2 linked regions of the Homo sapiens genome follow. The protein of the gene in region 1 purifies or fractionates together with the protein of each later gene. This does not show direct contact. Each region holds a gene or a part of one and is shown on either strand. Other genes may lie near its edges.

Region 1 (9,682 bases):
CAGCTTCTTCCTCATAGAGCTGGCAGTGATTTTCATTTCCAGCCCTCGCGCTGGACAGCACTTAGAAAATGTCTGCTGACTTGACTCACCTTCACTAGGAGATCACACCTTGGGAAATGTGGAGATGCCCCAGAGTGTGGATAAAGGGTTGGAAGGAGTGAGGGAGAAGCATCTTGAGAGGATTGGGACTCTCCACCTAATAGATTTCCCCAAACACCAATCCATTTGCCTTTTGCCATCTCATTTTTAAGAAGATTTTCAAATTTCTTGATATATTTTAGTGGAGTGAGGAGTAGAAGTATGGATTAAGAGTGAGAATAAATGTATTTTAAAAAGATGTGTCTATAGAAAAAAGACTATTTAAATGAAAAAACAGGAATCCTGGCTCTTTAAAATCTAGAGCTATATCCCTCTGTGAGTGTGAGCTACTGCTTGGATGAAAGTCAATCTGCTGTAGCAGAAAGTCCACAGGGTTGGATGTCAGGGACATGACTTCTGGTTTAGGATCAGCTCACATGTCATCTCTGGACCTCAGTGTTCTCATCTGCAAAATGTGGGGTACCCAAGATAGTCCTTAAGGCCTCTCAGCTTTCACAGTTAGGTTTGTCCCTAAAAACCCAGGTAGGGCCGGGCGCGGTGGCTCGCGCTTGTAATCCCAGCACTTTGGGAGGCCTAGGCGGGCGGATCACGAGGTCAGGAGATCGAGACCACGGCGAAACCCCGTCTCTACTAAAAATACGAAAAATTAGCCGGGCGTGATGGCGGGCGCCTGTAGTCCCAGCTACTTGGAAAGGCTGAGGCAGGAGAATGGCATAAACCCATGAGGCGGAGCTTGCAGTGAGCTGAGATCATCCCACTGCACTCCAGCCTGGGCGACTGAGCGAGACTCTGTCTCAAAAAACAAAACAAACAAACAAACAAAAAAACAAACAAAAAAAACCCCAGGTAGGTTTATCCTTTGAGAAGGGCAGTGATTGACAGTGCTTCCTTGATTCCTACCAGTGAAGTTTTTCAAGCAAATGGATTATTTCCTATAACTAATAATGATACTGATAGTAATAATTACTGTCTATTGATCACTTTGTGTTGGATAGTGGGTGAATCATTCTATTTACATTACTCCACTTAATTTTCACAACATCCTCATGACGTAAATTTTGGGTTTTTGTAGGTAAGGGAATTGAGGCTCAGAACGTTTAAGTAACTTAGAGGATTCACAGACAGTGAAATGATAGAGCTAGGTTAGCATCTACATCTGCCTCCCAGCAGAACCAACATTCCTCTAATAAAATGGGCATGAAACCCACCACCCTTTAATACTCCCAGGTGCTTGTCACTGGGCCTTCATTTATTCAGACACCAATGGAACAGACATTTATAGGACATTTACTATGTGCCAGGCACTGAGCTAGGCACTGACAGTTTGAAGATGACAAAGGTGTAATCCTGATCCTTAGGGAATTCCAATTAGGTAGCGTTTTTCTGCATTAGAGAAATAAAGTAAAGGCGAATGAAAGAAAATGGGTTCTTGCTATAAAAAGCCCAAACCACCTGATCCCTCTCCCTGTGACCCACAGGGGGAGTCTGCACTGAGAGACGCCAAGGAATAGGAAGCCAGAGAAGAGAGACTGACATAAAAGAGGATGGCTTCAAGATGGGCGAGACCAACCTGTTACATGAGCTGTGAGCGGCGAGGACAGTTCCTCCACAGTTTCAAACAGTTTCTTGTAACCACCAGCAGGATGCTCAACCCTGAAATGGTGGAAGAATAAGGAAGAAGCCCATGTTGATGCTCAAAGTCCGCAGAGATAGAGGCAGAGCTGCAGGAGAGAAGGCACTCTAGGGCTGGCTCAAAGCCTGTTCACTCCTGCCGGTCTAGTCTCAGCTGGGTGGGGGTGGGGGTGGGGGGAGAAGCGAAGGTGAGGGCGGGAGGAGCACGTGAGGCTGGGGGTGGGGAAGACTACTCAGGTATGGAAGGGGGTCCCAGATCACTGCTCTGATGTCAAGAGACATGACCTCTCTTTTAATGTCAATGGTTACAGTGAACTTAATCCTGTCCTCTGCAGTTTTTCCTTACTTCGGAAGACAAATCAATCAATCCTACTGCCATCAGTTCACTTCCTGAAATTTGTTCCTAAACAGGGTCCTTCCCACAGTATTCTCCCACCCTATCAACATGCTCAGCTCACAGCATCATTGATTTTCTTGCCTCAAGGAGAGACCCATTTATCTCCTTCCTAGGGGTTGAGAGATGACAGCTTTTTGGGTCAGGTACCTCATCTTTCATTATTCACTCATATTATACCATAATTTTTTCCCCATCATCTCATTTCTCTACCAATCCCCAAGACCTACAGTACTTTTTCATCATAGTCAGACCAGGAGATTCAGGTTCTATATTTTTGTTTACTTTCTACATCCTCTGTTCAGTTTCATGTTGTAACTTCAAAGAGTGGAATCTCTGACCAGACTCAATTATAATAATTACCTTTTACTAAACAATTACTATGTCCTACATACCATAAAAAGAACTTTGCATGGTATTATCTCTTTTAAATCTCACAGTAACATAATGGAGTAAAAGCTATTGTGACATCTTTCTATATACAGGAAAAGCTAGACTTAAAAAGTTAGGTAATTTGTCCAAAGTCACACACTAGGAAATGACTGGGCAAGGAGTGGAGCCCAAGTCTGTCTGAAATCCCCATACTCAAGACTGCTTCCAAACCCCGGGCTAAGTCACACAAACCCCCCATAATTTGGACCTGAATTCTAGCTAGTTGCTTTAATACATAAGCAGGAAAAAATTTCCCCACCAAAATTCAAGGGTCTTTCCTAAACAGGTCATTAATCAATGCCTTCTCTTCAGGAGCCCTTGAAATAGCACATTTATCATGAATCCATGAAGGTGTTTTAAAAAAGTCTCCCAGAGATACTTACTGGATAGACATTTTCTTCCAGTTCAGGATCCAGAGTTCTGGCACCAACTGCAGAATGAAGAAGGAAGTTCTCAGCCAGGGGCCTTTTTATGCCTTCTAAATCCCTTAAAAGGAGTTATGGCTTTGGGAGCCCTTCCCCACCCCTTCAGCTGAGGGAGGGGGAACAGAAGTTGCTTTCAGCTCTCAGATCCCCCTGATGCTTGGCTTTATTTGGGCTTGCTGTTCCCATAACAGTTGTTTGGCTGTTTTCCAGAGACCTCAATCCTTCCCAAGGAGAATGAGAACAGATTAGAAAGAAAGGAGCTAGGTGGGAGTGGCCAGCGTCAGGCCTGAGCTGATCCCAGTCACCCCACTGGACCTTGGCACCATTCTCTGGGGCCCACCTCCCCCTAATACCTCTGTGCCTTCATTCTCACCCTCATTCATTAACTCACTTATTTTTAAAAATATCTATTACATACCACCTATGAACCAGACAGAGATGGGTATTGTCCCTGTCCCTGTCTTCACAGATCTTATAACTCTGTAAGAGTTATAGTAAACAAAGTATTCAACCATGTTTGATTAGTGCTAAGATTGGAGAAGTATAAAATGTTATGGAAGCACATTGTGCACCTCTAACCCTCTCTAGCAACCTTATTGATACCATTCAGTGCCAATATTCTTCCAACCAGGTTGAGGACTTTTGATTTGCTGAGAATGAAATTCTGCATATCTTTGCTTGTCACTAATGCCTGTCTGCTCTCTGCCTCACCTTCTTGTCCATTGGTATATGTTTGGCACTCTGAGAGTATACAGCATCAATTCATTCATATCTCCAATACTCTTTCATTAAGTCTCAGTTGCTTGCCAGCACAGACAAGGTACTGCCCAAAGAAGTCCTTGGAAAACAGGCAAGATATATACTATACCAGCTAACAACCTTAACATTTTTTTTGAGAAACTCATTAACAATTTTAAATTTAGTGTGCAGTTATGGCTACTTACCCTAGGGGTCTTCTTCAACAAAACTGTATAACAATTAATCCAAGTGCTTCCCAAGATATACAACAGTAGCTTCATTTCCTTACAGTGAGGGCATAGGCATGTGATGGGCTCCACCCGTTAGGGACAGTGGTAGAAGTCCTAATGGTAGCACCTGGGGCTTAGCATCCATAATATCTCTGCCCATCCAAGGCAGTTGTAGTGTCTCCATTCAACAGTGGAGCCCGGAATATTGTTACTGGCTGGGTAGCCTCCAAGCTCCATCCTTTAGCCATCCCAGAGATTGTTAGCTCTCTAATATTTACAATATTTGCGTTCTGCTTTATTAGAGTTAGTTCCATTATTTGCAGCTAAGAGCCCTATGCCTATAAAATGATGGTAGTATAAGATACTACCATCATATTTTGGGGGGTATAATCACTTTTGTTGGATCTTGGAGAGTAATAGAAGAGGAGATTAATATCTATCTTTCCACATTAAAAGACCTGTTTCCAAAATATTTCAAATAAGAAACTTCTCCTCAAAGTACAAGGATAATCCAAATCTTCTTAAACCAGCAATAAAAGCATAAAATTTTTATTTAGAATTAAAGCAAATACTTCTGTATCACAAACACAATATTAAACTTCAATAAATATACCACTAATTTGGAGTGAGCACTTATTTGCACAATACCATACTTTTTTTTTTGCTATGAGAATGCTTTATTAGGCAAAACCATATACTATGAAAGTGCTTTAAAATGCAACAGGAGGAGATGTGAAGACACAAAGAACAAGTGCCTAGTGACACATGGATATCAGAACACACCAAGTAAAGTATCCACACTGCTTCCACCCTTTACCAAGAAAAGGAAGGATCTAGGCCACCTCCTCCTCGTCACCGTAGGATGCTGTGGTACCACCCAGGAAGAACATTGATACTGGCATTAGGAACCTCCAGGAGAAAAAGGAAGTATCTAAGCTGAGATGGGATAAATATATAAAAGTTAGCCAGTCAAAGGGCAGGTAGAAGAGTGTTCAGGCACAGCTTGTGTTATTTATAAAAGTCTAGAGGCTAACATAAGGTGGGAAAATAGCTAGAGATGAAACTGGACTAGAGATAATCATAGGCCAGATTGTGTAGAACATCATAAACTAGGCCAGGCACAGTGGCTCACGCCTGTAATCCCGGCCCTTTGGGAGGCCGAGGTGGGCAGATCACGAGGTCAGGAGATCGAAACCATCCTGGCTAACACGGTGAAACCCCGTCTCTACTAAAAATACAAAAAATTATCCGGGTGTGGTGGTGGGCACCCGTAGCCCTAGCTACTCGGGAGGCTGAGGCAGGAGAATGGCGTGAACCCAGGAGGCGGAACTTGCAGTGAGCTGAGATCGTGCCACTGCACTTTAGCCTGGGTGACAGAGCGAGACTCCATCTCAAAAAAAAAAAAAAAAAAAAAAGAACATCATAAACCATTTACAGAAATCCAGACCCTTGTCATGAGAAAAGGGGAATCACTGAAATATTTTATCCAGAGGAGTGACATGATCTGATTTGCATTTTAGTAGGACGACTTAGAATGCATTGTGGATAATATACTGGAATAGGAGATTTGGGCAAGACAAATTAAAGGGAGGCACAGATCAAACAAGTGGAGATAGCTGTTGTAAGCAGGTACACTGAGGGATGGATACGAATAGTGAAATTCAAGAGATACTTCAGAGGAGGCCTAATCTAACTCTGGGACTGGTAAATGTGTTGGGGAAATAAAAGGCATAAAAAAGGATTACCGGTGGGTTTCTGGTTTCTGGTACAATTCATTCAGATAATGCACACCGTGTGTGTGTGTGTGTGTGTGTGTGTGTGTGTGATGTTTCAGGGATACAGAGAAAATGAATTCTGATTGTGATTTGAACTTATTTATTAAAGGAGAAGATCCCCGGGGCCTGTAATCATTTGAGAGCCTAATAGGGAGGCTGAATGAGTTAGCATCTGAAGGATAAGCTCAGTGTTGACATAGAAAAAAGATGGAGGTGGCATTCTTAGGGAAAGATGCAGAGTGAGAGAAGGCAGAGGAATGAGCATGTTAGAAAGACTTTCTCCTGCAGCATTTTTGTTGGATTTTATTTTCTCAGCAGTCTCTTCTCTTCGAGAAGAGCTACAGGCCATGTTGTCATACCTGTACACTGTCAGTTCATTGGAGAGAAATTCCACTAATATCAAGACCCAGCAGCTTTTTAAAATTTTCACCTCTCCCCTCCCATTACAAGAGGCTGAAAGAGAAGTCTTTGTCGGAAAGAAAGCGTATACTAGTTGAGAGAGAGAGCATTAACAAACTGCATTTAAGTTCACCTCCTGGGAGATGAGAATCCGGTCTTGCTGGTGCCCGTGTCTGCACCAAGTGCCTTTCTTAGATATCCCTGTGCTGCCTTTGGTGTTCTGGGGCTATAACCACATTGTTTAAGAACAGCAACTGGTTTTAGCACTTTTTGCATTGTTTTGCGTCTGTGGTATCCTTTATGCTTCAACGTATAGATCCTAGAAGTCAGCTTCTTGAAGGATATTTCTTTTAAAAGTACAAATCATGGCAATTCATTCTAGGAATGCTCACAAACCCGTAGGCCATATGAATCATCAAATTAGTACGCTTGGAGAAATTCAGGATGAAAACTAATTTCTGTGTATTAAATTTCATTGAACCCTGAGCTCCTCAGGTATAAGACAGGGAAAATATGCAAAAGCATTCTTTAGCCAGAAGTATTCCATATGAATATTAAGTAATGCTTATTAATGTCAATTCTCAGGAAGTTTGAGAGTGTCTAATCTTCTAGCTACTACTTCCTACCTCAGAAGTAACCCATTTTTTTCTTATTCTGCCATTGGTGTGAAGTTAAAGATCAGATGTCCACATCCTTTCAAAGCATGATTTTGACCTCTTTGCTCCTATATCCTCAAATGTAGACCTCTTTTCTAGGTCTAACTTTATCTTTCTGTGGTTTCAGTGTGATACACCGGATCCCCAATGTATTGTTACTTCTCTTTTCATCATCTCCTTTTATTCCTTCCCCACCTTAATTTTTTGTCTTTTGGTAAAATCAGATCTTTATGTCCAATTTCTGTGTCTGCCTAAGAAACTGTTATTTTGACATACTTTGGTGTATTTACCAAAATAATATTCCATGAATTAAAATAGCAAAACACCTTTCTACAGAGATTTCTAAATAGAAACTGATTCCACATTTCTTTGAAGAAACTGGTTTAGAGGGTATTATAAAAGCTGCTTTTTCATCCTGATATTAGGCAGATCAGCTGGGGCCTGCAGGTCATGGTGAGGAGTTTGGATTGAGTTCTGAGAGCAATGGGAAGATATTCAGGGCTTTAAACAGGGGAATGACTGAGGGATCTGATTTATGTTTTGGAAAAAAATCACTCCCACTGGTATTTGAAGAATGGATTATAAGTGTCTAGAAAGGAAGTAGGGAAACTGGCAGTTCATTTCAGGTGAGGTGATGATGGTGCTTAGATTACAGTAGAGCAATGCATATGGAAAAAAGATTGAAAGATTTGAGATATGTTTTGTAGGTAGAAATTATAGGACACATGATAGGTTGATATATATGGGATATAAGAAAATGAGTTAAAGATCATCACCTATCTATTGCTAACATTGTAGCATAAAAGCCAAACAGCAAACCTCAGTGTCACACAAGAGTAAGTTTCTCGGGTGGTTGGCTAGGTGTATCTGCAATATGTCTTAATTTGCTTTCATAACTGGAGTTTACCTTGCTGTCTAGATACTGGCTGAAATAAGTGAGGTTATTTGGCTCTGCTATACCTCTCCTCTCCAGCAGGCCAGCCAGGGCTTATTCCCCTGGCAATGACAAATGAAAGAGCAAGTGATAACAGGAGAAGCCGCTTAAGGCCTAGGCTCAGAACTGATCTACTGTCACTTTCACCACTTTCTACTAGCCAAAACAAGTCATGTGGCCAGCTTAGACTTTGAGTGGGGTGAAAATAGCTTTGACCTTGGTAGTCTTCAGTGAGAAGGACTACAGTGTCACACTGCAGAGGTCATGAAAACAGGGAAGGATGTAGAATTGAAAGCATTTTTTCAGCACATGGGAGACCCAAATTCGATTTCTAGGTTTTAGAAAGAGCAATTGAATGACTGTCAAACTAGTCTCCAGGACTAGGGGAGAAATTGCTGAGTGGAAATGGGTATATTACGAATTCTCAGTTAAACGTGAGATGTGAGAAGCCTGTAAGACATTCATCTTCTCCAAGACACTTACTTGTCCCTCTTGCTCCTTCCCCAATAGCAGCCCTCATGCTACCTACCCTGAAGGAATTTTCTCAGTAGAGGTAGGATTTGACCCAAAGTAGTCTGAGCCTACATTTTATAAGTATTTCTTCCATCCACATATAGAAGTTCTAGCAAATATAATTTTCTCATTTTCATTACATGCTCAATGATACTTTAGTACTCCTTATAGACAGATGATCCTGGAGGCTTCCCAGCTGACTTGCTGGAAAGTTAGCTGGGAAGGGTTGAAATCTCTCTTCAACTCATTCCCAACCATACTGCCAGAGGCATTCTTTTAAAGGAAAATCTGACCATCTTCCTTCCTTGAGGTTTTTAAGAGGTCTACAGAACTTACTCAATAAAGTCCAATCACTTTAGCACAGCTATAAGATCCTTCCCATCTTGTCCCCTGCTGGCTTCTTAGTGCCATCATCTGCCATTTTCCCCTTTCCTTTGTGCTCTGGCAGTACCAAGCTGGCCACTGTCTCTCATGGATTGCATATTGTTTCAGGCCTCCCTTCACTTTGTTGAGCCCTTTGCTTGGGCCTCCCTTCCTTCTCTTGCCCGTCTGTCAAATTCCCAGTGTCTGTCATAACCCTGATAGAGTACAACCTTCCTGGAATGCCTCAGACAGGATGGTATCCTTTGTTCTTTTTCTGAAACTCATATATGTCTAGACCACATTATATTATTTCACTCGTTAGCATGTCTGTCTTGCTCTTCTTGCTTATTGTAGAGAAATAGAATTGTCATGCTTAGCACATTGATATTTGGCTAAACTGTTCAATACCTGTCAGGGTGGAAACTGGAGACAGCCACCTGTTCCCTCAGGGGAAAATGGACAGACTAGCAAAGCTTTGCACTCACTTCTGCTTCACACCCATAAATCACATGCAAGGCAACCTTCCCTGCTCCTCTTGTCTCTCCACCACTGCCAGAACTTAGTCTGCCCAGGCATCATTCAAAAATGTCATGGGGAAGAGGGACCTAGGGATAGCCCTGGCCATGTATCTTTCTATTTTCCCCCCTCTAGTGGATGTCAGAGTGCCCTCTTGCTGGTGGGTTTCATCTCTCATTTAGAGAATCCTTCTTGCCTTCCACTGCCTGTGTGAGTAATAAACATCAAAATTACTTGTGGTCTCTGGCTTGAGTGTGATATGTTTTGACATTTAATGTTTTGAAAAGGTAGCGCCTGGCAGCAGGCTTCCTGCAACACTTCTGCTTCATTATGCTTAGGGCATCAGTACAAGAGCTTAAAATTTGTTGATGGTTGACTAAGTTAGTAGAGGCCCACTAGAAGAGCTGCCTGAATGAACTGAGCAGGCAAGAGTAAAAGTTTTGTTTATAAATGAGTGCTTAATGATTTTTTTAAAAAGAATTTGAAGTATTTTACTTAAAATCTTGATTGTACTCTGATTTTAGTTAATCAGCTCTTGATTCACATCCACCAAAAAAAAGCACAAAAGAGGATTCT
Region 2 (7,127 bases), on another chromosome or scaffold:
TAATACCAAACATCATTCAGTATAAGCAAATTATAAATGTCAACTTAAAACTAACAATTTTTATTTAAAATTCTTATTTTTGAATCCTATGAGAAGCATCCTACCCAGGAGTACTATGTTTATATATCAATAAGTAATATTAAACTTGTTTCAGTCTTTGTTCCTTCTTTCATAGAAAATTTTCTTCAGTGTTTCCATTGTTAAAATATTGTTGTTTTTTTTTTCTTTTTGAGACAGGGTCTCACTCTTTGCCCAGGCTGGAGTGCAGTGACACAATCTTAGCTCAATACAACCTCTGCCTGCCGGGTTCAAGCAACTCTCCCACCTTAGCCTCCTGAGTAGCTGGGACTACAAGCATGCACCACGCTGCCCGGCTAGTTTTTGTATTTTTTGGTAGAGATGGGGTTTTACCATGTTGGCCAGGATGGTCTCAAACTCCCGATCTCAAGTGATCCACCTGCCTTGGCCTCCCAAAGTGCTGGGATTACAGACATGAGCCACTGCGCCCGGCCCCAAGACTACTTGATTTAGTTACTGCAATTATTATTATTATTATTATTATTATTATTTGGATTATGCGGTAGCATAGTATTGGTGGTAGAGATATCAATATGGTCCTAGTAGAATATTATAATTTTTTTCTAATATTTCATTGAGTCAAGTATGAATGATAAAAACAACTAAAATTTACTGAGGTCTATATTAAGTGAGGTGCAAGGTGCAAGTTTTATACATGTATGCTCGTTTCACCCCCTAAAAAACTCTATGAAAGAGGAATTATTATCTACATTTCACACATGATGAAACGATCAGAGGCTTAGAGAAGCTTACACATGACTAAAAGCATCTAGCTAGTTGCTAGTTGTGGGTAATGCCAGAATTCAGATGGGGGCAGTCTGGCTCTTTAAGCTGTGCTCAGAGTCAGTTTTACTACATCTCAATTAACGGTGAGCTCTTGGTCTTCGAAATGCAATTAAACCTAACACTTTTATATCACTTTCACAGAAGTTACTTGGTCCTTATAACAACTCTTTTTTTTTGAGATGGAGTCTTGCTCTGTTGCCCAGGCTGGAGTGCAGTGGTGCGCTCTCGGCTCACTGCAACCTCCGCCTCCTGGGTTCAAGCGATTCTCCTGCCTCAGCCTCCTGAGTAGCTGGTACTACAGGCGGGTGCCACCATGCCCAGCCACAACAACTGTTTATTACTTTACTTTACAAATAAGGAAATGGACTCAGAGAGAAGGTAAGTTTCTGAGGTTTTGAGTGGCCAGATATTTGAAATACAAGTCTTTTGCTCACGTCTTGCAGCTGCCTCTTGGATGTCTGGTATGCTTTTTGACAGGTACAGAATAGATTAATACACACACACACAGTTTTAGTTGTGGATTTATTGAGATATAATTGACATATCATGCAATTCACACATTTAAGGTATGCTGTTCAGAGGTTTTTAGCACATTCACAGTTGTGCAATCATTTCAGTCAATTTTAGAACACTTGAGTCACTCCATTAAAAAACCTCGTAACTTTTAGCTACCATTTTCTACTCCCCACTTCTCCAGTTCTGGGCAACCAGTAATCTACTTTCTGTCTCTACAGATTTGCCTATTATAGACATTTCTCGTAAATGGAATAAAATATTCAGTGGTCTTTTGTGTCTTGTTTATTCACTTAGCATAATGTCTTTAAGGTTTGTCCATGTTGTAGTGTATATCAGAACTTCACTCCTCTTTAGGTCTGAATAATATTCCATTGTATGGATGTACCACATTTTGTTTATCCATTCATCAGTTGATGGACATTTCAGGGATGTTGGAAATTATGAATAATGCTGTTATGAACATTCAAACATTTATTTTTAAAATTACTTTTATGTAAAATTGTCTGCTTTTTAACATTATGACAAATACTTTCTTCCCAGTTCTAAATTCTCAACGAAAAATTCTCCCTGATATCAGACCAGCAAACCAATGAACAGTTGCATGGACAGATGTACCTGAATGAATTTAAAAAGTAAATAATAAATACTATAATTAGCACAGTTGCTCATTAGTTATATAAAACAGCAATAACACTAGGGAATTAGTAGCAGTATAGAGCTCCAACTGAACAGTACGTGGCAACCCAATCTATCATTTATCACAGAGCTTATTTGGAAGTATTAGTCTACTTTAGTCTTCTAAATGTAAATTCAATGAGCTGAAGCTACTTCAATAGGACCTGGCAGCAGAAAAGGAATGATGTAAGTTTTCACCAAATTATTACAATTTGGTAGTAGAGGATGTTTGTTTTGATGATAGTGGCTGTTTTTGTTGTGATGTTTCTGTTGTGATGATAGTTTTTCAGTCTAAACCAGTACTGTGTAATATGAAATCTTAAGAGGCTATTTTAGTGTATTTAAAACTAAAAAATTTTAGTTACAAAGTTTCCTAAAAATTAGTGATACTTTTTGAAAAGCTGGTTCAAGTACATTTTATTAATTTTTTTCAATAAAAGAGAACAGTGTATTCAAGGTATTTAGTACAAGGTGGAAAGCCTACTTGATTTATTTTTTTTAATGAGTGAATGAATTCAACTTCTACTAGATTATCCTCTGTAAGTTGCGTCTATTAGTTTACACATCAGTCTTTCACGGGTGATTAACCTCACTAAAAACTTCATGTTCATCAATATTGTGTTGAACTTGAAACTGTATTATCATATATGTTTATTAATAGGCAATGGTGTCAGATAATCGTGAAATTGAGAAGTCGCCCATCCATTTGGGTGGGAAAATAACCAACATCCTCAGTTGTAATCCCACTAAGAACCGCCAGGGCGAGACGAAAGCGACATCGCTTCCATCTTTACGTGAGTCTTGGAAATGGTTCAGCACCATGACGTCCGCCGAAGACGTAGGTGTAGACGAGGAACAAAAGAGAAGACCCCTCGTGGAGGTGGCCTGTGGGGCCCGCCCTCCTCGGGCGCCTGTCGTCGTCTGTCCCTGACTCCGCTCCCCCCGGCGGCCGCAGCGAGTGCGCCCCGCGATGCAGCGGGCTGTGGAGGGAGCCTCCATGGAGTCTCCATCAACCATTGAGGACCAGGAGACGGTGGCAGGCGGTAGAGAGGCCTGGGCAGGGCCAGCGCCCCGGGCTGCGGAGCACAGGACGGCGGCGCCCAAGGACGCCCCAGGGCAGGCCTCAGCCCCTCCAACCGGTGGGAGCCCAGCTCCAGGGGAGCCCGCAGCTCCCTCCATCTTGGTTGATGGAGGCGGGGAGCTGCGTCTGGGTCTCTCCACCGTCGTGCCCGTCCCCTGTGGCCCCGCGGACGCAGACGCCAGCAGCCGGGGTTGTTCCCTTGGCCGAATGGCAGAGTCCAGTTGGGGCTTCCCGAGGACAAGTTTCCCGGCCCCACGGGGTTTGGTTTTTAGGGGGTCCCAAGTTCCCACAGTCGTTCCGACAAAATGGAGGACGTCGTCTCCTCCTGCTGCAGCCATGGCGGGAGGTGGGGGACTATTCCCCACGGGGCGCGGCGAGGGTGGAAGGGCCTCCACTGCCCCCAGCGCGGTCGGGATTCCAGTTCACCCGCGGTCCCGAAAGCCCACTCGGACCCGCTCCAGCGCCTCCCCGGCCTCGCCCCTCGCAGGGGCCTTCAAGCAACTGGACAGGGAGGGCGTTGGGGCATCGAGGCCGCGGCTCTCCTCGGGCAGAGGCGTTGGGAGCCGCTGCCGCGGCCTGGGCGCCCGGGCTCGGGCGAGGGCAGGCGGCCCCGCCGGAGTCTCCCGGGCTGTGTAGGTCCCGGAGAGCCCCGGGCCCCGAGGAGCCGAAGCGGGTTCGGTACGGCGGGCAGCGAATCTCGGGCTCCTGACCCTGGCAGACCCGGTGGGTGGGGGCGGGGGACCGGCGGGGAGGGGACCCGGCCAGGAGTCGAGGGCCGGCGGAGGCGGGAGTGGAACGGCAGGGCCGGGGGAGTGGCCCGCACCTGACGGACAGCCCTTCGGACCACCCTACCGAGGGGGGGCCCTGAAGGACGGCCGTCGGAGCCAATGGGCGTGCCCGAAGCGCTCCGGCCAGCCTTCCCCGTCAGCCAATGAGCGCGCGGAGGGCGGGGCCTCCCCGGGCTCGGCCGCGCCGCCGCCTCCTCCGCCTCCTCCTCCTCACCAGCGCTAAAGCCGGGACTGGACCGAGCGGAGTTGTGCGTGTCGCCGAAGGGGGGTGGGCCGGGGGAGGGGAGGTTCGTTCCGCGGAGCCCCAGCCAGAACCGGGTGAGGCTTATCCCCGCTGTCTTTCCAGTCCAGGGCCGCCGAGAGTGGGGGTGGCTGGGAGCAGCGCAGCCTCCGGAGGAGGAGGCGGAGGCGGAGGCGACTAGGGAGGCGGAGATGGGTGAGGGCAGCCTCCGGAGCCTCCCACCGACCCGGGATTAATACCCCGCGGCGCGGCCGCCGTCGCCGCTGCCGCGTCGGGGCCTCGGGGGCAGCTCGGGGCTGCGCTCATGTCACAGGCGCCTTTGCGTGCGGCCCGAGGGGCTGGGAGAGTGCGGGCGAGGCCGGGAGGGCTGGGTGAGGCGGCCGCCAGCGGCGGGGGTCGCGGGGCCGGCGGGGCGGCGGGACGGCGGGACGGCGGGGCGGGGGTGCCGGCCGCCCGGGGAGGTCGCGGGGCATTTTCCTTTCTCTCCGGCGGGGGGCGGGGGAGGGGCGCCCCGGCTGGGTCTCCGCTCTCGGGGCAGCGCTCCCACCCTGTCCACCGGAGCCGAGGTCCCCAAGTTTTTCGGGGTGAGGGCTGCTGCCTCTGCTCCGCCGGGTCCCCTCCTTCGCTCTTCTTTTCCTCGGCGCTGCGCTGCGCGGCTCTTGCTCCGCACGTATTGTTTGGCTGGGTCTCTAATGGCGGACGGGGAGGCAGCGCTGCCGGTCGCCGACTGCAGGGGGGGGCAAACCTCAGGCCCAGGGCAACTGCTTGGGGCAAATGTGGGCGATATCGGCCCAGCAGTGACGTGAGCCGCCCCTTACCTCTGAATTGGTACTTGGAGTGACGGGGATGACGCTGGGTGGGCAAATTTAGGAGGGAATACAAATCCCTTGCTGGCGTCGAGGCAACGTTTTCCCTTCCCCCCTCCCTTCCCGGGAGCAGGCTCGGTGTCCTTAGGCCCCCTCCCTTCCAGATTTTGCCTTTCACATGGGTTTTGGCCCCAAATATGTATTTTGCGCTGTTTTGCCCCACTTACGCAGGAGGGGGCTGTTGTGCGCATGGTGGGGGTAATAATAGAAGGACCGAACCTCCTTGACCTCTTATTCCCTTCTCTGCCTCCTTCTGGCAGAAAGGGTTGGGTTCTCCCACCAGGTTGTGTGTTTTTGATACATTTTTCTTTTTTCCTCCTATCCCAGGACCAAGAATCGCCTTCAGCCCTGTCTGGTGCATCCTTGGCAGAAAGTGAGGAGGAAAACACCCCCATTGTGAGTCCTTTGCCCCTAATTTGTTGCTAATAGAGGACATTGTCAGGTTGTAGGGGTTAAGCTATGGGACCTGGCCCTCCCCGTTGTTTTGAGGGGGAGGAGCTTTCCCTTGGGTGGCAGCTGCCCCCAGGGCGAAGCCTGGGTAATGGCTGGTGAGGCAGCTGGGAGTGGGCGCTGCTGTTTCCACCGCTGCAGACATCGCTCCTGCTGCTGCAATACCAACCTCAGCAACCAGACGACGGGCTTCTGCAGCTGCTCACGTTACCCGGGAGGAGGGGTGGTGCGAAGGAGGGCATATTTCTGGTGCCCTCTAGAGTTCCAAAATGGGAATTAAAGTTATTTCTTGTTGAATGCTGTGCATGCAACCTGAACATTTTTTCTTCCTTAAACAATGGCTAATTGATTGAAGGAATTGGAAACATAGAAATAATCATTTATATTTTTGTTTATGTCTGCTGGAAACACATATTTTGACACTTATGGCTCATGAGTTGCTAGATCTTTTTCATGTATTTGCTTAGGAAAGGGAGTCAACTCCTCTAGTACTATCTTGTTCACCAAGTAGTATGCTGATCAGTCCAGTGTACTGATCTAGTTAATTTCTTCGTTCCCCATCTTCCATGTTGATCATCTTTAACTTAACGATCATTTTTGAATGTGTTACCAGAGAATTATTTAATTTGTTGGTTTTAAGGCAACTATGTAATGTGCTAGAGAGGAAGATGAAGATAGCCAGTCATATTTTCCTTCAGGCAATTGAAACTAAAAGTATCTGAAGTCAGCACTCTGGACACATTATGTCTCTGGAGCCCATTGACAGTTGATGTGGTAACTTGTAGATCTCTGTCAGAGTCAGAGATGAGTTATTTACGCTTAAGTATTCAGTCCACATGGTTCAAAAAATAGTGAATTGATAAGCATTTGCTGAATATACATTGTGAAGGATGATGTGAGAATAGTAACTTACATTAAATATACACCGTTCTAGGCACAGTCCAGGACACTTTCCTTTAATCTTAGCAAGTAGCCCACAGGGTAATACCTATGGCGTGTATTGAGCCCTTATTGTATGCTAGCCCAATTCTAAGGTTTTTTTTTTTTTTTTAAGTTTATTATGGAAACTTTAAATTTTACTAGTAAGAATAGTGTACTGAACCTCCATGTACCCATCATTCACATTCTAAAATTATCAATACGTGCCCACACTAGTTTTTAACATGTGTTAAGTAATTTAATTATCACGAAAACCCAGTGATGTTGATAACCACAGTTATCAATTAGATTTTTATACTGCCTTGTTTCAAAACTAACGGGCTGTTTGGATCAGAATTAACATAGTCTCTTTTTCAATATGTCTGTACAATTTACAGTCTGTAATTGTTTTCTAAATATTGCTAACTTGAATGAATATAACATCTCTAATGAGTTTGAAGTTCATCTCAGGCATCAGATCATTCAATAATGAATCAAGGGTTAGATCTTTCAAATAGATGGATGATGCTTATCGCCACATATTTTCACAAAAGATTTATCTTTCTAGGATTTTTTTTCTTTGTTCTTAGTTATGTTGATAGGGGAAGCTTGATAATTGGTTGTGTTTAGTAGATATTTGGAGATGAGGAACATAAAAAATGCAAAATCAGTACTTTTCTGTAATGTCAACATATGTATACTAACGGAAAGCAGTGCTGCTTTTACGT

The links.
Region 2: the proteins of RPE65 (region 1) and ZMYM2 purify together in Homo sapiens (affinity purification with mass spectrometry; 2 studies listed by BioGRID and IntAct, with this or other methods). This does not show direct contact.

Annotation. Positions count from the first base shown.
Region 1 is NC_000001.11:68,446,955-68,456,636, forward strand, and holds the start of RPE65 (retinoid isomerohydrolase), read right to left. Parts: upstream 3,001-9,682; 5' UTR 2,952-3,000; coding exon 2,941-2,951; exon of another isoform or gene 1,753-2,940; coding exon 1,670-1,752; exon of another isoform or gene 1,578-1,669; intron 1-1,577.
Region 2 is NC_000013.11:19,954,600-19,961,726, forward strand, and holds the start of ZMYM2 (zinc finger MYM-type protein 2), read left to right. Parts: upstream 1-4,127; 5' UTR 4,128-4,242; exon of another isoform or gene 4,243-4,360; intron 4,361-4,424; exon of another isoform or gene 4,425-4,536; intron 4,537-4,651; exon of another isoform or gene 4,652-4,993; intron 4,994-5,358; coding exon of another isoform or gene 5,359-5,427; intron 5,428-7,127. UniProt on the Homo sapiens protein: Involved in the negative regulation of transcription.